Homo sapiens: one gene and its partners. The protein of the gene in region 1 purifies or fractionates together with the protein of each later gene. This does not show direct contact. Each region holds a gene or a part of one and is shown in the gene's direction. Other genes may lie near its edges. The genes, in order: GPR137B, NCAPG, NCAPD2 and DOC2A.

What was found.
Region 2: the proteins of GPR137B (region 1) and NCAPG purify together in Homo sapiens (affinity purification with mass spectrometry; 3 studies listed by BioGRID and IntAct, with this or other methods). This does not show direct contact.
Region 3: the proteins of GPR137B (region 1) and NCAPD2 purify together in Homo sapiens (affinity purification with mass spectrometry; 3 studies listed by BioGRID and IntAct, with this or other methods). This does not show direct contact.
Region 4: the proteins of GPR137B (region 1) and DOC2A purify together in Homo sapiens (affinity purification with mass spectrometry; 3 studies listed by BioGRID and IntAct, with this or other methods). This does not show direct contact.

The regions. Positions count from the first base shown.
Region 1 is NC_000001.11:236,145,526-236,152,562, forward strand, and holds part of GPR137B (integral membrane protein GPR137B), read left to right. Parts: intron 1-7,037. UniProt on the Homo sapiens protein: Lysosomal integral membrane protein that regulates the localization and activity of mTORC1, a signaling complex promoting cell growth in response to growth factors, energy levels, and amino acids.
Region 2 is NC_000004.12:17,813,949-17,820,985, forward strand, and holds part of NCAPG (condensin complex subunit 3), read left to right. Parts: intron 1-904; coding exon 905-1,050; intron 1,051-1,325; coding exon 1,326-1,410; intron 1,411-3,312; coding exon 3,313-3,505; intron 3,506-3,990; coding exon 3,991-4,140; intron 4,141-7,037. UniProt on the Homo sapiens protein: Regulatory subunit of the condensin complex, a complex required for conversion of interphase chromatin into mitotic-like condense chromosomes.
Region 3 is NC_000012.12:6,518,084-6,525,120, forward strand, and holds part of NCAPD2 (condensin complex subunit 1), read left to right. Parts: intron 1-2,902; coding exon 2,903-3,027; intron 3,028-3,714; coding exon 3,715-3,954; intron 3,955-4,744; coding exon 4,745-4,919; intron 4,920-5,178; coding exon 5,179-5,263; intron 5,264-7,037. UniProt on the Homo sapiens protein: Regulatory subunit of the condensin complex, a complex required for conversion of interphase chromatin into mitotic-like condense chromosomes.
Region 4 is NC_000016.10:30,005,014-30,008,064, reverse strand, and holds the end of DOC2A (double C2-like domain-containing protein alpha), read left to right. Parts: intron 1-765; coding exon 766-892; intron 893-974; coding exon 975-1,034; intron 1,035-1,116; coding exon 1,117-1,280; intron 1,281-1,387; coding exon 1,388-1,469; intron 1,470-1,555; coding exon 1,556-1,652; intron 1,653-1,733; coding exon 1,734-1,879; 3' UTR 1,880-2,551; downstream 2,552-3,051. Other genes in the region: INO80E (INO80 complex subunit E), read right to left, coding at 3,014-3,051. UniProt on the Homo sapiens protein: Calcium sensor which most probably regulates fusion of vesicles with membranes. Binds calcium and phospholipids. May be involved in calcium dependent neurotransmitter release through the interaction with UNC13A.

The DNA.
Region 1 (7,037 bases):
GTTTTGTATTTTTAGTAGAGACAGTGTTTCACCATGTTGACCAGGATGGTCTTGATCTCTTGACCTTGTGATCTGTCCACCTCGGCCTCCCAAAGTGCTGGGATTACAGGTGTGAGCCACCGCACCCGGCCAAGAAAGCACACTTCTAAGCAATTGGTTATATTTATTTTTACCAGAACTCTCTGAAGAAAGTACCGGTATTGTCCCCATTTTCCAGAGGAGGAAACTGAGGCTGAGAGGTCGTAGATGACTTGCTCAAGGTCACACTGTCAGTGCATGGTGGAGCTGGGATTCAACACACATCTGTGCTGTCTGAGTGTGAGGTTTGTCTTTTATGTACAGTATGTGAAACCTCTTTTTATTTTATTTTTTGAGATAGAGCCTTGCTTTGTGGTGATCTGGGTTCACTGCAACCTCTGCCTCCTGGATTCAAGCGATTCTCCTGCCTCAGCCTCCCGAGTATCTGGGATTACAGGCACCTGCCACTGCACCTGGCTAATTTTTGTATTTTTAGTAGAGATGGAGTTTTGCCATGTTGGCCAGGTTGGTCTCAAACTCCTGACCTCAAGTAATCTGCCCACCTCGGCCTCCCAAAGTGCCGTGATTACAGGTGTGAGCCACCGCGCCTGGCCATGAAACCTCTTAACAATGGGAAAACATACCCAACTCTAAATCTAACCTCGTGTTCTCCTGGAGCGCAAAATCAGGTTGCAGAGAATCAAAGTATACATACAGCACAGTTAAGGCACGATTTGCGGCACTGAAGGGAATGGTTATTGAAGCGTCAGGAGACTTGAATGAGACATGAGTCCTCTGAGAAGAAGCAGGTGTCTGGAGGCTGAAGCTGGGTGGGGAGGAAGAGAGGATGGTGGGAAGGAAGTCGTGGGGGCAGTTTGGGAATTGGGAATGAACTGGAAGGAGAGGTCCGAGATGGGGAGGAAGCTTTTTTCTGTTGTTGTCAGTCCTTTGTGCTTTTGCAGGGTCCCTGTACCTGGGCCTTACTCATCTCACCCTCCCTGGTGACCCAGAGGGTACTGTTACCCCCCAACTGAGGCTCGGAGGGGTGAGAACACTTGCCCACACTGCCCCGTCCGAGCCTCCGTGCAATGCACACGATGCTGCAGTACGCAGCCCCGGCTGCCCTTGGGTACACATCTGAGGGTAATGCGATCATGAGCAAGCTCAATTTGATTAACTTACCCCTAAATCACTGCTTTTAAATTCTGCCATGTTAAGTCTCTTTCCACCCCTAATGACCTCTCAGGCAGATCCTATGGCTTTCTAGTCATACTCGGTAATTATTATTATTTTGGAGTCTGGCTCTGTCACCCAGGCCGCAGTAGTGTGATCTTGGCTCACTGCAACCTCCGCCTCCCAGATTCAAGCAGTTCTCCTGCCTCGGCCTCCTTAGTAGCTGAGATTACAGGTGTGCGCCACCACGCCTGGCTAATTTCTGTATTTTCAGTAGAGACAGGGTTTCACCATCTTGGCCAGGCTGGTTTTGAACTCCTGACCTCAGGTGATCTGCCTACCTCGGCTTCCCAAAGTGCTGGGATTGCAGGCGTGAGCCACTGTGCCTGGCCCATACTCCTTTATTAAATCTTTACGTCTGATTTAAAGCTTCTCCCACACTGTCCAAGGCCAGCCAGGCTTCGAGCTGCAGGGCTTGGTGCAGAGGGTGTGCCCATGCTCTCAGCCTCTCCCCTTCCATCTTCCCAGGCAGCCCAGGGGAGGGGCACACTCTCTCGTGACTGCCAGCGTGTCGGCCTCTGGTCTTGCTCTGGCGCCGCCTCTGTGGGTAACTGCCACGTGGCCATGTTGACATGATGGACTTCAGCTTCTTCCTAGCCCCATCTTTGGTCTCCCTTCCATCCCAATTCCTTCTTCAGGGGGCAGCCACATGGCTTTAGGCCCCTTTTCGAAAAGCCCTTTTAGGGCTTTTTCTTAGAAAGCCATGGGATCACTGAGGCCCCTCCACTCCCACTTGGCCACATGGGTGACAGGCTGGATGCCTAACTAGCGTCTTCAGGACCCTGCACCTGGCTGCTTTTCACTCCTTGCGTGCCTAGGGGCCCTCCCACCTGTAAAAATCCCAGGTGGAAGCAAGCATCACCCTCCAAGTGCCTGGTGCCTCCAGATCACCAGGGCACAGGTCAGGCTCCACCGGGACTCCACCTGCAAACAGTCCCAGCTCAGCAAGCATCTGCCCGGGCCCCCTTCCTGCCCAATCCCTGTGAGCAGTGTCCATGTGTCTTTCTCCTTTCTGACCTGGGGTGAGGTGCCCTGCTGGTAGCAGGCTGTTAACTCTTTTTCTCCATCTCCACTCTCCACCTTCCAGTTCAGCCTGGGAACATGGGGAGGCGGCTGTGGTAGGACTGGTTCTGCTAACTCTCTCCGGGCCGTCTGTATGCAGTGTCTGTCTGGCCCCAAATGTTTGGAACATGGAGTGCTGACTACCTGTTGTTTCCAGCTGTGGCTCCTTGTGCCAGCTTTGGGGAACAGCTGAGCTTCTGCTCCCGGCTGCATGAGGAAGTGGCGGGACCAAGGCTTTGCACCAAGGCCTTTGACTCAGAGCCTGTTCTAAGCGCTGTGTCAAATCACCATTTTAGTGGGGACTTAGGAGAGGGGCAGGACTCTGAAACCTAAGGCAGGCAGGGGTCTCTGCTCATGAGGAATTATGGTGCCTTCTACCTCCAGGTTTCAGGATAGAGGCTCAGAAGCAAAGGCGGTAGCTTCTGTGCCCAGGCAGCTCCTGGGCAGACAGGTCTGTGCCCTGCAGGGGCAGAAGTTGATGTGGCGGTGGGCTCGGTGACACCTCGGCAGCCACGTATCCCAGCCCTTCTTCCTCGGAATTCCCAGCCTGGAACTCAGACTCTCCAGATTCCCGAGTTTGGCAGGATGGAACAGGCTGGTTCAGCTTTGTCTTGGGCCCTATGACAAACTCCTGCCATTGCAGTCACATGGTTTGCGGAAGGAAATGGAGAAGCGAGTTCTCTCCATGGGGAGAGGTGCTGTGATGAATGGACACTGATGTGGGAACTGAGACCTGAGACGTCACCATGCCTTGGAGGGCAGATGGGAAGCTGACATTTATCGGGGTCTGGTCTGTTCTGTTCTGAAACTCAGCTAGGGACTTCCACACCCTCCACTCAGCTGCAGCAGGGATGGTTCGTGAGTCATGTGGTCCTGTGGGATGGTGCCAGGGGCTCGTGGTGAGGGCCTGCGGCTCATGGTAGGGGCTCATAGTCGGTGTTGGGAGCTCATCATGGGCACTAGGCCAGCAAAGCCTTATGAATGAGGAGGCAGCCCTGGGAGTGAAGGAGCAGGGTCCCTGGGTGCAGATCTGGGTTCCAATCCGGGCTTTGCCTCCAGTGTGGGTCCCATGGCTGGTTACCACCTCTCTAAGGCTGCTGCTTCACCAGGGAGACAGAAACTGTAATACTCATCCCATGGGTCGGAGTGGGTTAAAGGAGATGCCGTGTGTCCTGAATCCCTTTGCTCCTCTCCTCCCTTAGTTGAGATTCTCACTGTGTGTTGCCTACAGCTCTGAACCTAGGCTCTTGCTTCGACACCCAGCCACTGTCCTGAAGGTCAGGTCCCCGGGCTGACCCTGCCCTTTTCCAGCCTACTGTGCCATCAAAATTACTTTTCCACCAAACAGCAGCTTTTCTGTTTGTAAAACGGTGGTGACTCTTGGCGCACCCGTAGGGAGCATGTGGCAAGCCTAATCGCAGTGCCTGACATGAGAGCAGAAGGCACTGGGGGTCCAGCAGCCCAGCCCCTCCTTTGCAGATGAGCCGACCAGAGGAGGAAATTCTCCCAGGCAGCCCAGCCAGGCGTGCAGAGGCAGGACAAGTCCCGTGTTTCAGGCTGACCGATCCGTGCTTGCTACAGACGCCACACTCTGACTTGAAGTGGGTCATAGTCCTCATTCTTGCTGGTAGGGAACTAAGAGGCCCCTAAAAGTCGAATCCAGGAACTAGTCCTCCGTGCTCACCAGGAAAGGGACGTGGGTGATTGTAGGAGTAAGGGGCTTCGGCTGTGGCTCTTGGCGGTCAGTTTAGTCAAGACGTGTTTATCAAATACCTGTCGTGTGGCAGGCCCTAGTCTAGGAGTTGTGAAGAGGGAAGCTTCTAGGCCTTTTGGTGATTGTAAAGAAGTAAGAGGCTTAGGAAACAGACAAGGCGGGCCAAGGGCAAGGACTGTGCTCAGCCTGGCCTCTGGGCCCTGCGCCCATGGCCTCAGCCCCTGGCACCGGCTCCCTGCGGAGCTAGCTCAGTGGGCTCATGGCCAGCCAGAGTTGTGTGTGCACCTAGGTGTGCGCCTTTGTATGTGTATGTGCATGTGTGCCTGTGTGCACCTGTGTGTATGTACATGTGTGCCTGTGCACGTGTGGCTGCGTGCACCTGTGTGTGTATGTGCATATGCGTGTGTGCCTGTGTGCACCTGTGTGTGTGTGGGGTTTGTGTATGTGTGCCTGTGTGTGTGCCTGTGTGTGTACCTGTGTGTGTGTGTGCCTGCCTCTGTGTGCCTGTGTCTGTGTGGGTCTCTGAGTGTCTGTGCATGTGTGTGTCTGTGCCTGTGTATGTCTGTGCCTGCGTGTGCCTGTGTGTGTGCCTCTGTTTGTGTCTGTGCATGTGTGTGCCCGTTTGTGTTTGTGTGTGTCTGTGTGCCTGTGTGTGTGTCTGTGCCTGTGTGTGCCTGTGTATGTCTGTGCCCGTGTGTGTGCCTGTGTTTGTGTGTGTCTGTGCCTGTGTGTGTCTTTGCCTGTGTTTGTGTGTATGTGCCTGTGTGTGTGTCTGTGCATGTGTGTGCCTGTGTGTGTGGAAAGGTTTCCTTATTTTCTTGGTCTGCCGTTCACCCCCAGCACCTCCCGCAGGCCACTTTCTAAACATACAGCCCAGTTTCCCGAGCCCTCTCCTCGAGCCATGGCAGCGTGCTCTTCTCTCTGCAGCTGAGGCTGTGACCGCATCAGTGCCTCGGTGATGCCCTGCCAACCGAGGGGGAACTAAATCCTGTTAATGCCCTCAGCACTCGGGGAACAATTAGGCCCCTCACAGCACATTCAGCATCCAACCCCAGTGACCATGCAGGAAGCCTGGACTTCCCCACAGCAGAGGCTGGGCTGAGGCTGCTGCCGGGTCACCATCAGGAGCGCCCTACTGTCGGCTCCGAACACTGTGGCACCTGCAGGCTTTGCTACGGCTTCTTGCTCACCTGCCTTTCCGTAGTCAGACAGGCAGAACTGGTAGTGACCAGCAGGGAGGCAGGGCCGGAGCACTGTCCTGAGGCTAGTGCAGGTTCTCAGTGGAGTTCCAGGGCCCAGCCATGGCTGTCCCGCTGCTGCTGTGCCCACCCTCTGAGCCCCAGGCTAGCTGCTCAGCGTTGAGTGGCGGGGAGTGGAGGGCAGGGGTCATGACAGTGAGGGGTGGGCTGCCCAGAGAGGAACATTTGCAAGATCCAAGACCCTCTACAAAATCTCACTGCAAGCGTCTTAGGGTTTTGCAAACAACAAAGTCATGTGATCCCAAGAGCCGCTTTTGTCAGGCTGTTCCTGTTGGCCTTGCGTTTCCAGTGAGAAGAAGAAAGCTGGTTCCTGGTTGGAAGGTCTGTCTGGGTCCTGACATTTTGGCCGGCCAGTTCTCTCAGTACAGAAATAGCCCCAGCAGACTGTTTAGACAGTACCTGGGACAACAGGCATTCCCCGAGGGCTGCAGAGGCTCATAAATATTTCACTTTTTATGTTTCCTGCAGCTGAAGCTTAGAGTCCATTAACCTATAAGGACAGATGAAGCCCAAATGGTTTTACTCTGCAAGTGGGTTGATTACCTCAAGCTTATGTGGGTCAGGATTTTAGGCCTGTGAGCCACATATGGTCTCTGTTGCATATTCATTTTTTTTTTTTTTTTTTTTTTTTGAGACAGAGTCTTGCTCTGTCGCCAAGCTGGAGTGCAGTGGCGCAATCTCGGCTCACTGCAACATCTGCCTCCCAGGTTCAAGTGATTCTCCTGCCACAGCCTCCCGAGTAGCTGGGACTACAGGTGCCCGCCACCATGCCCAGCTAATTTTTGTATTTTTAGTAGAGACGGGGTTTCACAATGTTGGCCAGGATGATCTCGATCTCTTGACCTCATGATCCGCCTGCCTCGGCCTTCCAAAGTGCTGGGATTACAGGCGTGAGCCACTGCGCCCGGCCTCCCTCCTCGATTTTTAAATGGCATACACACTTGCGAGGCTGAGCTACGCAGTCTGCAAAACACAGGGTGAAAAAACCCCCATACACGGTGGGGTTGGCTCTGTGGGCTGCTCCCACCCCATAGGCTACTCTCCCTGTCACCTTGGACTCTGCTGCCACAGCTTCTTTGTAGCTGTCAGAGGTCATGTTGTCCCATCAGGCTGTGTGACGGTCCATTTTTAGTGCATGAGTGGTGGCAGATAAGGAGGGAAGTGGGCAGGGTGTGAGCAACCTTGGCGTGCCGTGAGCCTGGCCCCATCAGGCCCACACTCATTTTCTGGGAAGACAGCACACATCTATCCATGCGAGAGGGCCTCGTCCTCCCAGCTTTCACAAAGCAACATAAAGTTCAACTGGAACATGGCGATTCATTTCATTTATTCAACAGGTGTTTTTTTTTAAATTAAAAAAATTGTATTGTCTGGGTGTGGTGAATTACACCTGTAATCCCAACACTTTGGGAGGACGAGGCAGGAGGTTCGCTTGAGCCCAGGAGTTCAAGACTATCCTGGGCAATATAGTGAGATCTCATCTGTACAAAAAATTAAAAAATTAGCCAAGCATAGTGGCATGCACCTGTAATCCCAGCTACTCAAGAGGCTGAGGTGGGAGGATTGCTTGAACTTGGGAGGTCAAGGCTGCAGTGAGCTGAGATCGCACCACTGCATTCTAGCCTGGGTGATAGAGCGAGACCTGTCTCAAAAAAATGTATTGGGGCTGGACACAGTGGCTTATGCCTGTAATCCCAGCACTTTGGGAGGCCGAGGCGGGTGGATCATCTGAGGTCAGTAGTTCAGACCAC
Region 2 (7,037 bases), on another chromosome or scaffold:
TACCCATAATAATATTGTGTAAAACATAGGTATTTGATAGTCAACCTGTACTTAATAATTGAGGTAGGAAAGATGTGAGAAGTACAGATAAATATATTTAAATATAAGAAATGGGTTTGTTTCAATGAATAAAACCAAAAAATATTTCCTTTTAGGTCTCATTAAAAACCAAAATAATGGGCCCTTATAAAGCCATATCAGTTTAAAATAAACTGTCTGCTATAGTAAGCTTTCTCTTAAATATTGAGGAGTAGCACAGACATAATCTTAATGATGAATTTTCTGTGACTTTTAGGGCTATTTGTTTTCACTTTTGGCCTAAGAGCCAGTCCGTTGACTAATTCCCCCTTGTGTCTTTAGAAGGGAAGTTGGTGGCCTGCGCAGCAGTGACTCAGGCCTGTAATCTCAGCACTTTGGCTCCAACCTGGGCAACATAGTGAGACCTTGTCTCCAAAAAAAAGAAAAAGAAGGAAGTTGGTGGGAAAAAAACTTCAACTAAAATATGTGAGACTAAAAAAATGACATTACTTTCTATTACAGATGGGTTCTCACTCGGGCTGGATTGCAGAGGTGTGGCCTCAAACTCCTGGGCTTAAGTGATCCTTCCACCTCAGCCTCCTAAGTAACTGGAAGCGCCACTACCATGCCTAGCTAATTTTTTATTTTAAAATTATTTTGTAGAGACAGGGGTCTTTCTATATTGCTCAGGCTGGTCTTGAACTCTTGGCTTCAAGCTCTCCACCTACCTTGGCCTCCCAAAGTGCTGGTTATAGGCAGTAGCCATCATGCCCAGCCTATCTTTATCACATTAAAGGCATTTTAAAATATCAAAATGTGTGTTATTTTATGACTGTAGTTAAATAAATAATTTCATCAGTACTAAAATGTATTGCTTTATTTTTAGCATATGCTACTTTGATTGAAAATGATTCAAATCCAGAAGTTAGACGGGCAGTGTTATCATGTATTGCACCATCAGCAAAGACTTTGCCAAAAATTGTAGGGCGCACCAAGGATGTGAAAGAGGCTGTCAGAAAGCTGGCTTATCAGGTAAATAAGTTCAATGTCTTGTGTTGGCATATTCTTAAAGGACAAGGAGCCATTTTCTTAAAGTGCCTTTGAAAAATACTTGGCATGTAATAATTTCTTCAGTTGAGGTTTTATGGAGAACACAGGTAATTTAGGTAGAATCTTACTGTATTAAGTATGTTACCAGGTATTAATTTCTTTTGGAGATTCTGGGTAATTTTCTAAGATGGTGATATTCTTATGAAATCTATAAATTGTGTTGAGGTTAATGACCATCTTTATAAATTATTTTTAAGGTTTTAGCTGAAAAGGTTCATATGAGAGCTATGTCCATTGCTCAGAGAGTAATGCTCCTTCAACAAGGTCTTAATGACAGATCAGGTAAGATAAACAACTTTATATATACAAAACTTTAGTAGATTTTGAGGTCAGACTTAACAAGGTTTAAGAAACGAGTGTCAAATCAGGTCAAGTAAGCCTGCCAGTCCCATGAACCTGGTGAAATTTATCTTGATGTATTATATAGAAAACACAGGGCTAAAGATTTTGATATATATATATTTTTGAGACAGAGTCTCACTCTATCACCCAGACTGGAGTGCTGTGGTGCAATCTTGGCTCACTGCAACCTCTGCCTTCTAGTTTCAAGCGATTCTCCTGCCTCAGCCTCCTGAGCAGCTGGGATTACAGGTGAACATCACCATGTCTGGTTAATTTTTATATTTTTATAGAGACGGGGTTTCACCATGTTGGCCAGACTGGTCTCGAACTCCTGACCTCAAGTGATGCACCTACTTCAGCCTCCCAAAGTGTTGGGATTACAGGTGTGAGCCACCGCGTCTGGCCAAGATCTTGGTATTTTGAAGGAGCAGAGCTTATTTCTTTCACCCTTTCTGTATTTTACAGATGGAGAAACAATACTTAAGTCTGTAGAGCTAATTCATGTCAGAAGTAGGAAAAGATCTATTTGCCCTCTCTCTCTGACTTAAAAAAAAAATGCTGTTCCTTATGTGTATACTTTGGTATGAATGTGTTCTGTGTATCAGAAACAACAAATAGGAATGGTCAGACCAGTATAATTTTCTTATTTTTTTTTTTTTCTGTTAGAGTAGAGTTCCCCAACATTTTTGACACCAAGGATCGATTTCATGGAAGACAGTTTTTCCACAGAGGGCGGGCTGGATGGTTTCCAGATGAAACTGTTCCACCTCAGATCATCAGGCATTACTTAGATTCTCATAAGGAGCGTGCAACCTGGATACCTCATGTGCGCAGTTCACAATAGAGTTCCTGCGCCTGAGAGAATCTAATGCATCTGCTGATCTGACAGTAGGAAGAGCTCAGGTGGTAATGCTCGTTAGACCACGGCTTACCTCCTCCTGTGCGGCCCGGTTCCTAACAGGCCACAGACTGGTACTAGTCCGTGGCCCAGGGGTTGGGGAGCCTGAGAGAATCTGCTTATAGGAATGATATTTTTTGAAGTTTTTAACTCTCATGAGAAGGCCAAGATGGCTCTATTGCGCTGTAGTGAGAAAACCGACTTGCGTTTGAAAACATTGTCAGAGGACTAATTAGTAGGATGACCTTAAAAGCTAAGACTAAGGTTTGTTCAGTGACGTGTGCTTGTATAGTTCACTACTGCAAATAGCAATCGTGTAATAGATAAAATCAGATAACAAGTGAGATAATAGCTATTACATATTCTGGGCTAACACCTGAAGCCCATTGAACCCAGGGGAGAAGGAATGTAAAGATATTTTTGTAGGCTGTGGTATTTGGTGCTGAACCTTTTCCATTTTTATTTGTAAGTGACCATTACAGTGACTTTTGCAGTATCATGGTACTTCTTTTTTTTTACCTTTAATATGCTTAGTTGGCTGGGCGCTATGGCTCACACCTGTAATCTCAGCACTTTTGGAGGCCGAGGCAGGCGGATCACGAGGTCAAGAGATTGAGACCATCCTGGCCAACATGGTGAAACAAAAATTAGCTGGGCGTGGTGGCGCATGCCTGTAGTCCCAGCTACTCGGGAGGCTGAGGCAGGAGAATCGCTTGAATCTGGTAGGTGGAGGTTGCAGTGAACCAAGATCGTGCCACTGCACTCCAGCCTGGTGACAGAGCGAGACTCTGTCTCAAAAAATATATATATACATGCTTAGTTGTGCCTCTTAACCTCTACTATTTCTATTGTAAATACTGACTTTGTTAATTAAAACAGACAAAATACAAGAGATGGAAGCTAGAGGGAGCCTTTGTTCACCTATGTTTCAAATGACTCAATAGATGCTGTGAAACAAGCTATGCAGAAGCATCTTCTTCAAGGCTGGTTACGGTTCTCTGAAGGAAATATCTTAGAGTTGCTCCATCGGTTGGATGTAGAAAATTCTTCTGAAGTGGCAGTCTCTGTTCTCAATGCCTTGTTTTCAATAACTCCTCTCAGTGAACTGGTGGGACTCTGTAAAAACAATGATGGCAGGTACATAAAGGATTCATTCTTTGAAATGTAGTACTGATTAACTTGTGCAATTAATTTGTTTTTTTTCCTCCCCATAGCTTAAGATTATATTAATACCTTTAATCTTAACTCTCTTTTGTTTTCTTTTAGTCTGATGAATATCCTTTTATCCTTCCTTTTTCCCCTCCTGGTGTAAGAACTCATAACTTTATCATAGACTATCTACTTTAGCTATGCTTTTCCCCCCTTCAGTTTCTTACTTTGATTTTTGAATTAGCCTACCATGAGAAAATCCAGCAACATGCACCCCTAGTATATGTTTGCTTATTTGGTTCTTTTTTGTTCTAAGTTTCTTCATTCCTTTTTGTGTGGATACATTAATGACTCTAATTAAAAGGATAGTGTAGTGGTTTTAAAGCAAATCTTATTATTCTCATTTTTGTACTCTTCAATTCTTAATGATAAAAAGATCATGCTTTCTCTCACACTCTTTCTTTTAAATGAAGGAAATTGATTCCAGTGGAAACATTAACTCCTGAAATTGCTTTGTATTGGTGTGCCCTTTGTGAATATTTGAAATCAAAAGGAGATGAAGGTGAAGAATTTTTAGAGCAGATTTTGCCAGAGCCTGTAGTATATGCAGACTATTTATTGAGGTAAATTTTTTTTCTTTTAGTTTGGAGAGTGATTGTGTTGCTGCATGTGTCAATCTCCCAGTCCCCTTCCTCAAAGTCATGTTTGATTGTGAATATGTTAAAAATCCTTTTTTTGTACATGTAGGGATAGTTATATACATCGAGTCTTTTTGAATATCTTGTGCTGGTCTGTATACTGAAAGAGCAAGTCACTATGTTTAGGATCATTTCTTCAAAACTGTTAAGATATGATTATGACCATTTCTGCATAAAGTTGATGATGATGATATATTATTTCTGAAATTGGTTGGCACATTTTCTGTTAAGTGTCAGATAATAAATATCTTAGGGTCCTGTGGGCCATACCGTCTGTCACAATGACTCAACTCTGCCATGGTATTGTAAAAGCAGCCAAAGACAATGTAAGTAACTGTTTTTCAATAAAACTTTTATTGACTTTTATGGCCACTAAATAGTTGAACTTTAATATTCATGTGTTAACAAAATAAGAAATTTTAAAAAATGATCAGTTAAAAATTTAAAATAGTCTTAGCTTGCAAGCTATATAACAGGTAATAGGCTGGATTTGATGCACGGAACATTGTTTTCCAATTCACAGCGTGGATCTTTGTGGCCAGTTTTATTTATTAAAAACTTACTATCTAGCTTCATGTTTTAAAGTTTTTTCAAAATATGCCTTTTTAAAAAACAATTTGGATTACCATAATTATACCTCTTAAGAAATTATTTGGATTACTTTATTTCACTTTAAAATTATACAAGAAAAACATGAATGCATTCTTGTCAAAATTCAAATACAGAGGTATAAGGAATAAAAATGTGGAATTCCCTCTTTTATTTCCTACTTCCTCAATCCCATTGATTAGCAACTAAGTGTATATTCTAGCAACCCTTAGAATTAGCAACTAAACAATATAGGGTGTATATTCAAACCTCTTTCTCTGCATTTATATACATTTTTTGAGTACAGGTTTCTTTAAAAATATAACACTGTGTATATACTTTTTTTTTCAACTGATAACTGAGATCATTATATATTGGTGCATATATAATGTAATAGATACTGTTACAGTCTTAACAGCATATCATTCCGTAGTATGGTGGTAACATTTAATTTATTCCTCTGTTGATGGACATTTAGGATGTTTCCATTTTTCACTGATAAAAGCAAAAGTATGTTAAATTTCCTTTACATTTTTGGGTACCTTTGGGATTTTTGGGGGTTAATTCCAAGAAATAAGTTGCTACACCAAAGGATAATATATGTATATTTTGATAGATATTGGTATGTAGGTTTTTAACTTCAACTTTATGGTTTATTTTTTTTTTTTTGAGACGGAGTCTTGCTCTGTCGCCAGGCTGGAGTGCAATAGTGCAATCTCGGCTCACTGCATCCTCCGCCTCCCGGGTTCAAGCGATTCTCTTGCCTCAGCCTCCTGAGTAGCTGGGACTACAGGCACGCGCCTCCATGCCCAGCTAATTTTTGTATTTTTAGTAGAGATGGGGTTTCACCATGTTGGCCAGGATGGTCTCAATCTCTTGACCTCGTGATCTGCCTGCCTTGGCCTCCCAAAGTGCTGGGATTACAGGCGTGAGCCACAGCGCCCAGCCTGATGTATTTTTTTAAAAAAGCTTCCATATAATATGAATTATGGACCTGAATTATCTGTATGAAGTACAGTTCTCTGCTTTTGTTTAAAATGATCTCACATAAAAGTTAGGCAGCAAAGCTGTGCATGCCTCTAAATTTCCCCTCAAAAATCCTAAATCTAGGATAAGTATCTCAAATGTGAGCCAGTAGGGAAACTATAGCTCAAGCCCATGTTAACATCATGAAGAACCTGTGTGAATCTAATGAGCATTTTAATGTTAATTATTTCAGACTTTGACATTTAAGTAGGGAATTCATTATAATGCTGTTTGGGCCATGTTGAAATGTTTCCAAAAGGAATGAGTTTGTGGCAAAGTTTAATAATATATATAAATATAAAAGATGTTTATAGAAGGTAGTGAAAATATAAGAAAATATGAGGAAATGTTAAATATTTAAATGGCATAAAGGGGGAGGAGTTTTCCTCAAGGACAGCATCAGAAGGTGACTTGTAAAAAGCTTGATTCCTCCCTTCTGAAAGGTCAGGGATTAACATTTCCTTTGTCACTCTCTTAGTTTTGAAATAAGTAACTTTAACCTCTTCGACTTATTTTCTTCACCTTTAAAGAGGAAAATTTTCGGCTGGGTGCGGTGGCTCATGCCTGTAATCCCAGCACTTTAGGAGGCTGAGGCCGGTGGATCACGAGGTCAGGAGATCGAGACCATCCTAGCCAACATAGTGAAACCCCGTCTCTACTAAAAATACAAAAAAATTAGCTGGGCGTGGTGGCAGGCGCCTGTAGTCCTAGCTACTCGGGAGGCTGAGGTAGGAGAATAGCGTGAACCTGGGAGGTGGAGCTTGCAATGAGCCGAGATCGCGCCACTGCACTCCAGCCTGGGCAACAGAGCAAGACTCCGTCTCAAAAAAAACAAAAAAAAGAAAACTTTCAGAAATTTATTTTAGTGATTGTTGAAAGAATACCTAAAAAATAGAATGAGTGTCTTTTTGGAGGAACATGACTAGATGGGATTAGTATACTTGAGTACAGAAACAAAATTAAATTGAAAAATTGTTTCCTGATAATCTCAGGAATATGTTTTCAGGCATACTGTATATTTTAGGCAGTAGATTCAATGACTAAGAACTCTGATGTGAAACAATTTTGGTTAACCAAGGTGCTCACTTAAAGAGCAAACGAGGAAATGAGGATTATCAAATTAGAGTAAGTAAAAGGGACAACAATAAAATTTGTTGAAAGCCATCTTAAATATAAATTCTTAGACTTTAAAATACTTTCTTGAGTGG
Region 3 (7,037 bases), on another chromosome or scaffold:
TGTTTTCATGTAGTAATGGTCTGACCATAGGCCTAGTCCACAATTAAGCATGTGTTTCTACTTTATAAATGTTTAAAAAAACTACTGAAACAATTAAATGTTAACAGTATTATAATCAAACATGAGTCCTCCTTCAATTGAAGAAGAGCACCTATAAATAAGTTCTAGTTGTATGATCTTGAATAAGTTGCTTAACTTTCTGTGCCTCGGTTTCATTATCTATAAAATAAGAAATTGATTAGATCTTATGATCTCTAAGGACTTTCTAATTCTAAATTTCATGAACTAATAATATCAAACATGCTTAATACTACCTTAATCTTCAAACCTAGTATGAATCCTGATCTTAGAGAAAAGATTTCTCCTAGTGTTTTTGTGACTCTAGAACTTAACAACAAAAGCCCTTACAGCCGTCAACAAGTTTTTTTTTTTTTTTTTTTTTTTTTTTTTTGAGATGGAGTCTCACTCACTCTGTTGCCCAGGCTGCAGTACAGTGACACGATCTTGGCTCACTGCAACCTCTGCCTCCCAGGTTCAAGCAATTCTCGTGCCTCAGCCTCCCAAGTAGCTGGGACCACAGGCGCGCACCACCACACCGCACTAATTTTTTTATTTTTAGTAGAGACAGGGTTTCACCATATTGGCCAGGCTGGTCTTGAACTCCTGACCTCAGGTGATCCACCCATCTCAGCCTCCCAAAGTGCCATGATTACAGGCGTGAGCCACCGCACTCGGCTGCCAACAAGTATTCTTAAACCTCAGCCACAAGTTATTTGTTATTTATTTACTTCTTACCTAATTGGGCTGAATTTTTTTTTTGGAGACGGAGTCTTGCTCTGTTGCCCAGGCTGGAGTGCAGTGGTGCGATCTTGGCTCACTGCAACCTCCACCTCCTGGGTTCACGCCATTCTCCTGCCTCAGCCTCCCGAGTAGCTGGGACTACAGGCGCCCGCCACCACGCCCGGCTAATTTTTTTTTTTATATTTTTAGTAGAGACGGGGTTTCACCGTGTTAGCCAGGATGGTCTCAATCTCCTGACCTCGTGATCCGCCTGCCTCGGCCTCCCAAAGTGCTGGGATTACAGGCTTGAGCCACCGTGCCCGGCTTGGGCTGTTTTTAGAAGGCTAGAGAGTGGCTTGTTTGCCCTATGACTCCCTTATGTTACTTTAGTGTCTCTCTTTTTATTTTGCTAAAGCAAAAATAGAGACTATAGTTTTATAAGTGCATGTTCCACCAAGCATTCTAGTATTTTCTCCTGTCAATTAGAAAAGGATTGTTTGTTTTTGAGACAGAATCTCACTGTTGCCCAGGCTGGAGTACAGTAGCGCAATCACAGCTCACTGCAGCCTCTCACTGTAGCCTCAACCCTGCTGGGCTCAAGCGATCTCCCACATTAGCCTCCTGAGTAGCCTGGTTAATTTATTTATAATTTGTAGCTGGGATTACAGGTACACACCACCAGGCCTGGCCTTTGCCAGCCTGGGCAACGTGGCAAGAAGATAACATGTAGACAAGCAGTCAAACATGTATTCTTTTTTTCCCCCTTTTATATGACTGATAGAATTCTCTGCCCACTGATCTACCATCTTGTTTTTTTCACTTAACTATGTGTCTCAGTGGTTTTTAAAAATATTTATGGCTGGGTGCAATGGCTCATGCCTGTAATCCCAGCTACTTGGGAGGCTGAGGCAGGAGAATTGCTTGAACCCAGGAAGCAGAGGTTGCAGTGAGCTGAGATTGCTCCGCTACACTCTACCCTGGGTGACAGAGGAAGAGTCCATCTCAAAAAAAAAAAAAAATTTATAGATGGCCAGGTGCAGTGGCTCACACCTGTAATCCCAGCACCTTGGGAGCCCAAAGCTGGTGGATCTCTTGAGGCCAGGAGTTTGAGGCCAGCCTGGCCAACGTGGCGAAATGGCGAAACCCATCTCTGCTAAAATTACAAAAATTGGCCAGGTATGGTGGCACGTACCTGTAATCCTAGCTATTTGGGGAGCTGAGGCATGAGAATCACTCAAACCTAGGAAGCAGAGGTTATAGTGAGCCAAGATCATGCCACTACACTTCAGCCTGGGTGACAGAACAAGACTCTGTCTCTAAAAAAAAAAATATATATATATATATACACATATATATTTATACATAAATAGTTTCCCACTCTCCTCTTTTTTTGAGAGAGAGAGTGTCTCACTCTTTTGCCCATGCTGGAGTACAGTGGTATGATCACAACTCACTGCAGCTTTGATCTCCCAGGCTCAAGTGATCCTCCCACCTCAGCTCCCTCGAGTAGCTGAGACCACAGGCACACACCATTACACCCACAGGCACACACCATCACACCCACAGGCACACACCATCACACCCACAGGCATACACCATCACACCCACAGGCACACACCATCACACCCGGCTAACTTTTTTTACTTTTTGTATAGTTGGGTCTCCCTGTGTTGCCCAGACTGATCTCAAATTCCTGGGCTCACGTGTCCCCATTATTTTTTATGACTACATAGAATCTTATTGTCTGGATGTGCCTGAATTAACTAATTATTGAAAGTTTATTGTTTCTAAACTTAGGAAAGTTTTTAAACAGGTGTTTGGAGTAGGTTTATGATTTTAAAACTTTAAAAAGCCTTATTGGAGTTTTTTTGAAGACTGTAGTAATGCCTTGTAGGTTCAGAAATAGGAAAAGTGTTTGCAGATGAGCAGTCAGGGGAAAAAAATAGGCAAAGTGTTTTGAGCCCTACCCCTTAGTAGGTGCTGTAACAACTTTTTAAGCATGTTAAGTGCTCCTTTTCTCTGGGCAGTAGGTCCAGGGACTTGATAGAATCATGAGGTAAGCTCCCTTACAAACGGCTGCAGTGACATTCTTCTGGGTACTGACAGGCTGGTGTTCTTTCAGAAAGGCCATCATTCTCACTCGAGAAGCCACAGGCCACTTCCAGGAGTCCGAACCCTTCAGTCATATAGACCCAGAGGAGTCAGAGGAGACCAGGCTCTTGAATATCTTAGGACTTATCTTCAAAGGTAATCATTTTCCTTCTTCAGTCAATAAATAACACATGTCAACTGGTATTTACTGAGCATTAACTTTATGCCATCATTGGCCTGGTTAACAGAACCTGGTGCTGAAGAGCCCAGAGATGAATTGGCATTACTTTTGCTCTGGAATGGAAGCAGCCCACGGGCCTAAGATTGATAGTCACAGGGTGACTGTCCAGACCATAGCGGTCTTTAGGTATGGTTTTTGAGAAATTTAGATATTTTAGAGTAAGTTTTAATTTCATATCTTCACATTGTGAAAAGAGATATCCAGGGCCAGATGTCGTGGCTTATGCCTGTAATCCTAACACTTTGGGAGGCCAAGGCAGGAGGATTGCTTGAGCCCAGGAGTTGAAAATCAGCCTGAGCAACATGACGAAACCCCCATCTCTACAAGGGATACCAAAAAAAAATTAGCCAGGTGCGGTGGCACGCACCTGTAGTCCCAACTGCTCAGGAGCTGAAGTGAGAGAATCACCTTAGCCCGGGGAAGTTGAGGCTGCAGTGAGCGGTGATCATTGCCACTGCACAGCCTAGGCAACAGAGTGAGACCCCATCTCAAAAGAAAAGAAGAAGGAAAATAAATAAGTAAATATCCAGGAATGTTGACAGCTGTTGGATTCCCCTGTATCCCCTTGAACGAAACCATCCTGTACTTCTCTAACTCCTTAGGCCCAGCAGCTTCCACACAAGAAAAGAATCCCCGGGAGTCTACAGGAAACATGGTCACAGGACAGACTGTCTGTAAAAATAAACCCAATATGTCGGATCCTGAGGAATCCAGGGGAAATGATGAACTAGTGAAGCAGGAGATGCTGGTACAGTATCTGCAGGATGCCTACAGCTTCTCCCGGAAGATTACAGAGGCCATTGGCATCATCAGCAAGATGATGTATGAAAACACAACTACAGGTATGCCAGAGTCCCTTTCTATAAGGACAGCCTTGGGGTTCTTTTGGATTTTTTAATTTTTTAAATTTTTATTAACAATAGAGATGGGGCCTTCCTTTGTTGCTCAGGCTGGTCTCCAACTCCTGGGCTCAGGCAATTCTTCTGCGTCAGCCTCCCAAAGTGCTGGTATTACAGGTGTGAGCCACTGCACCCGGCCATGGATCTTGGAGTTCTTTTCCATATTTTATTGATATATCTATCTGCTCCTTTAAAAGGCAGGGGTTCTCGGCTGGGCGCGATGGCTCATGCCTGTAATCCCTACAAAACTGGGAGGCCAAAGCAGGAAGACAGGTTGAGGCCAGGAGTTCGAGAGCAGCCTGGGCAACATAGCAAGACCCCATCTCTACAAAGAAACAAAAACTAACTGGGCGTGATGGCACGCACCTGTAGTTCCAGCTACTCGGAAGGCTGGGCAGGAGGATTGCTTGAGCCCGGGAGTTTGAGGCTACAGTGAGCTGTGGTCATGCCACTGCACTCTAGCCGGAGCAACAGAATAAGAACCTGTGTCTTAAGAAAAGAAAAAAAAAAGGCAGGGGTTCTTTTTTTCTGTTTGCTTCCTCTAGCCACTTACAGCTTATACATTTTAATGCATATAGTATTTCATGATAAGGCATCATAGGAGGAGTCGACATTCTCAGGGAAAATGCGGAAGGCCTCCATTTGCATCTTGCTACATTCAGAAAGGTTCTGTCGTTAGGTATTGGGGGAGTTTTGTGAAGTAGATAGGTGACATTTGTACATGTTCTCTCAGTGGTGCAGGAGGTGATTGAATTCTTTGTGATGGTCTTCCAATTTGGGGTACCCCAGGCCCTGTTTGGGGTGCGCCGTATGCTGCCTCTCATCTGGTCTAAGGAGCCTGGTGTCCGGGAAGCCGTGCTTAATGCCTACCGCCAACTCTACCTCAACCCCAAAGGGGACTCTGCCAGGTATATGGGGTGCTTTTGCCTTTGCTGACTTTTCCAAGGTCAGCTTCTCACAGGACTTCCCTTGTCTCCTAAAGGAAGAGGTGCATTTCTCCAGGGGAGTTCCAGATCCATAGGCAGTCCATCATAGTGGGGCTTAGGGTGGGGCTCGGTTTCCAGGGAGAGCAGTTTTGTAGCACTGTGGTGGGATAGCCCTAATCACTGTTTGCCAAGTTCAGCTTCCCAATCTTATAGTGACCGCTGATCTCTGCTGTTCCCACAGAGCCAAGGCCCAGGCTTTGATTCAGAATCTCTCTCTGCTGCTAGTGGATGCCTCGGTTGGGACCATTCAGTGTCTTGAGGAAATTGTAAGGCTTCCTGCTTTCTCTTTCTTTATTCATTCAACAAGTATTTTGGTTGTTTTTTTTTTTTTTTTTGAGACGGAGTCATGCCCCATTGCCCAGGCTGGAGTGCAATGGCACAATCTTGGCTCACTGCAACCTCCGCCTCCCAGGTTCAAGCAATTCTCCTGCCTCAGCCTCCCGAGTAACTGGAATTACATGCATGTGCCACCATGCCCGACTAGTTTTTTGTATCTTTAGTAGAGACGGGGTTTCACCATGTTGGCCGAGCTGGTCTCGAACCCTTGACCTCGTGATCCACCCGCCTCAACCTCCCAGAGTGCTGGGATTACAGGCGTGAGCCAAAGCGCCCGGCAACAAGTATTATTGAGTTATTACTATGTATTTAGCAATTTACTTAGCTCCAGAAAGAAGTATAAGACTATTTGCTTTCATGTTCCCAACTTTAAAGGAACCAACAGTCTAGTTGGTAGTGAAAAACCACAGAACATTTTTAGAACAATGCAGCAGGTAGATAATAAAGTGCCAGAATGAGTTGTACGGGTAATGGTTGTCATAGCAATAATAACAACCTCACTTATATGGTATTGAATATATGACAGGCACTCACACGTTACTCACAGTAACTTGTTTAATCCTCACGACAGCCCTGTGAGGTAGCATTATCTGCATTTTACAATGAGAAATCTGAGGCACAGAGAAGTTACTGAACTTGGCTGGTTACAGCTAGTTAGTGGCAAAGTTTGAGATTCAAACTCAGGCAATAAGAGCTCTAGAAAACATACTCTTAACTTCTGTGTTCTACTGAGGGATACAGAGTAGGAAAGAGAGCGGTTTGGGGTAGAATGGTCAAGGAAGCTTCCTGAAGGTGGTAGGACTTAAGCTGGGTCTTGAAAGATGAGTAGGATTTAGAGAATCAGAGCAAGGAGGGAGGGCATTTCAAACAGAACCCAAGAAAGAGCACAGTTCACATTGTAGAACAAAGAAGACTGTGTTCTGGTTCAAATTATCTGGAAAAGACCAGGCGCGATGGCTCACGTCTGTAATCCCAGCACTTTGGGAGGCCAAGGCAGCAGATTACCTGAGGTCTGAGGTCAGGAGTTCGAGACCAGCCTGGTCAACATGGCGAAACCCCACCTTTACTAAAAATACAAAAAAATTAGCCAGGTGTGGTGGTGGGCACCTGTAGTCCCAGCTACTTGGGAGGCTGAGGCAGGACAGTTGCTTGAACCCAGGAGGTGGAGGTAGCAGTGAGCCGAGATTGCGCCACTGCACTCCAGCCTGGGCGACAGAGGGAGACTCTGTCTCAAAAAAAAAAAAAAAAAAAAAAATCTGGAAAAGATAATAAAGTTGTGAATGTAGGTTGGAACTAAACTGTGGAAGTCCCTGAATGACTTCAGGAGTCTAGGACTTTAACTGTGTTAGCCAGGCACCCAGCATTTTAGTGAGACATTCTGCTTTGTAGCATTTGCATTGCGGGCACAGAGAGTGGAGGTGGCGCTGGGAAGCGTGCTCCTGCCAGCCACATTTTTCTCCTCACTGGGGAAAAGAAAAGAGCCTGGTGGTGGTGATTGGCCATGATGTCATAGGTCAGTTACCGGCAAAAGCCCTACAAGAGGCAGGGGAGAGCACCTGCAAACTGGGGTGCAACAGAAGGGACGTGGGGAAGCAGAGGCTGAGGAGACCAACCCATGGGAAGGAAGGCCCGTGGAGGCTGCTGCAGTGGGCAGTAACGAGGGGCTGGACTTGAGGATTGGAGAAATCACTGCAGAATGGGCTT
Region 4 (3,051 bases), on another chromosome or scaffold:
CCACCTTGGTTTCAGCTATTCGGGTGGAATGGAGGGGAGGCCAGAGGCCAAAACCAGAATGAGACCAAAAAATGAGCGCTCACCAGGGCCCAGCCCAGGCTTAGCATTTTCACATTTCTTTCTTTCCCTTGACTATCTCCATTTACAGATGGGAATTGAGGCATAGGGTGATCAAGTGACTTGCCCAAGGTCACACAGGTGGCTCAGAAGTGGCAGGGCTGGGATCTGCCCATCCTCCATGCCACAGATGCCCAGCCTGGTAGTGGGTCACTGCGGAGGCAGGGCAGGGACTGCAGGAGGACAGGTGGCTGGAAAGCAATCATTTCTTAGTGAGTCCCTGCGGGGCTGGCTCTCTGCTGCATGCAGGAAAAGGACGGGGGTTCCCGAGGAGGCGTGGGGTACTGGTCTGGCTGCCCAAGGCTCCAAGGCCCTTCTAGCTCTCACGGCCTGTGTCTATGGCCACATCCACCGTGGTGTTCGGCTCCTGCCCCCAGGCCCTGAATGGAGGCAGTGAGCAGCGTGCTCCAAGATTTCTGAGGGCTTCCCACAATGGCTGAGCATGTCCTGATGGACCAGGGACAGCCGGGTGGCTGCAGAGGGAGGGACAGAGGAATGGGCAAATCTGCTTGTCCTTCTCAAGTGCCAGCCTGTCTTCCAGATGAGACGTAGTGTTTAGGGCAGAGCTGGGCTGGTCCAAGGCCCTTCCTACACCCCGGAACGGGGCTCAGGTACCCCAGGGGCCCTGACACTGCAGTTCCCGACCAGGATCGCCGTCTGTGATGAGGACAAGCTGAGTCACAATGAGTTTATTGGGGAGATCCGCGTGCCCCTCCGCCGCCTCAAGCCTTCGCAGAAGAAGCATTTTAACATCTGCCTCGAGCGCCAGGTCCCGGTCTGTGTGGGGGCTGCAGGGGCGCCAGGGGAGGGGGCCCTGGGGAGGCCAGGCTTCCAGAACCTTCTCTTTGCCCCCTCAGCTGGCGTCCCCCTCTTCCATGTCAGCGGCGCTGAGGGGCATCTCCTGTTATCTGAAGGAGGTGAGGCACCTCATGGGGATGGGGATGCATGTGGGTGGGAGGCTGCAGGGGCCCAGGCTGACCCTGAGTCTGTGCCCCGCAGTTGGAGCAGGCGGAGCAGGGGCAGGGGCTGCTGGAGGAGCGTGGCCGCATCCTGCTGAGTCTCAGCTACAGCTCGCGGCGCCGGGGACTGCTGGTAGGCATCTTGCGCTGCGCCCATCTGGCTGCCATGGACGTCAACGGTTACTCGGACCCCTACGTCAAGACGTGAGCCCTTGCTCTGACCCTCTCCTCCCCAGGGAGCCTGCCCTGGCCTGAGTTGGGCCTGGCCTGTCCCTCACCCCTCAGTTCGTCTCCCTCCACCCCACCCCCAGGTACCTGAGGCCCGATGTGGACAAGAAATCCAAGCATAAGACGTGTGTGAAGAAGAAGACTCTCAACCCAGAATTTAACGAGGTACCCAGGAGGGGACGGGACATGGAGGGAGGCCAGGGAGGGGCTGGGGAGCTGGCTCACGAACGGGTGGCCGGCCTTGTCCCTAGGAGTTTTTCTACGAGATAGAGCTCTCCACTCTGGCCACCAAGACCCTGGAAGTCACCGTCTGGGACTATGACATTGGCAAATCCAATGACTTCATTGGTGAGGGAGGAGCTGGCTGCGGGTGTTGAGGGCGGGCAAGTGGCAGGGAGGTGGCCCTGACCCTGCCCACCTGCTCCCCAGGTGGCGTGTCCCTGGGGCCAGGTGCCCGAGGCGAGGCTCGGAAGCACTGGAGTGACTGCCTGCAGCAGCCGGACGCAGCCCTGGAGCGCTGGCACACCCTGACCAGTGAGCTGCCCCCTGCGGCCGGGGCTCTGTCCTCAGCCTGAGTGGACAGCAGTGTCCCGGCACAGGCCCATCGAGCCGGGTCCAGTACCCAACCTTCGCACGAGTGTGTTGCACGTTTACACAGGGTGGGCTGCCCCCACCCTGCACTACCTATTTTTGTGAGTCTCCGTGACCCGGGTCTGTCTGCTCATGAGGGGCTGCGGAGTTCTATATTCACATATGCAAACCTCCTGCCTGACTCGCTAGTCCCTGCAAATATGCAAACCCCCCATCATCTGCACACCCGGGCAGTGCTCAGAGCCCGGCCCCAGGCCCCCGCGCTCCTCACTCCTGCCTCTCCACGCTGCCCCGTCCCTCTCCCCCAACAGGGAGGAGGTCGGATTAGGGGAGGTTCAGAGGAGGAGAATGTCTCAAAAAAAAAGGACAAAAAACAAACCCAGAGCCACTCCTTTAATACAGAAACTTCATTGAAAAAACCTAGCCCTGTACAGCTGCCCTTTTAAAGAGGTGGCCATTGCAGGGTCTCTGCCTCCCCAGCAGGTGGCAGATGCTCCCGGCCACTCGTTTAAATAACTGTCCCCTGGAGGGGGCCGGGGTTTGAAGGCAGGGCCCCTGCCACCCTCCTGGGGGACACCCGTGCATGTTTACGCCTTTTCTGGTTGTGTCAGTGGCCGGAGCATGGCAGCTGGGCATCAATAAACACCTCCGAGGAAGCTGGACTCGTGTGTGCTGGCACGGGGAGGGCGCCGGGCGGGGCCGTGGTGGGCATGGCGTGATGTCACGGTCACTCCGGGATGTCGATCACCAGGTCATCGTCTCCATCCAAGGCATCGTCCCCGCTACCTGCATCGCTGAACATCTGCCGAGGGACCGTGCTCAGGATCGTGGGGGGGGGCATCTTAGGGGGTGGGAGGGGGGTCAGGGTTGTCCCGACCCCAGCCCCAGAACCCCGGCCAGGGAAGGTCAGCGGCCCTCCCACAGGGCAGTCGGGGGGTCCCACCGCCATCTGCAGCAGGGGGAAGAAACACAGGGGGACTAGTCAGGGAGGCACTGGGGCCTCAGGAGACTAGGCTTTGCCCCCCAGGGCAGCTCTGGGGAGGGGGAAGAGGCCCTGGGCACAGCTGGGCCAACCCATGCTGCACTCAGGGCCTGCCCCCCTCAGCCCCTCGAGAGCCTCAAACCAGCAAGTGCCTGGGGGTGGTGATAGAGGTGA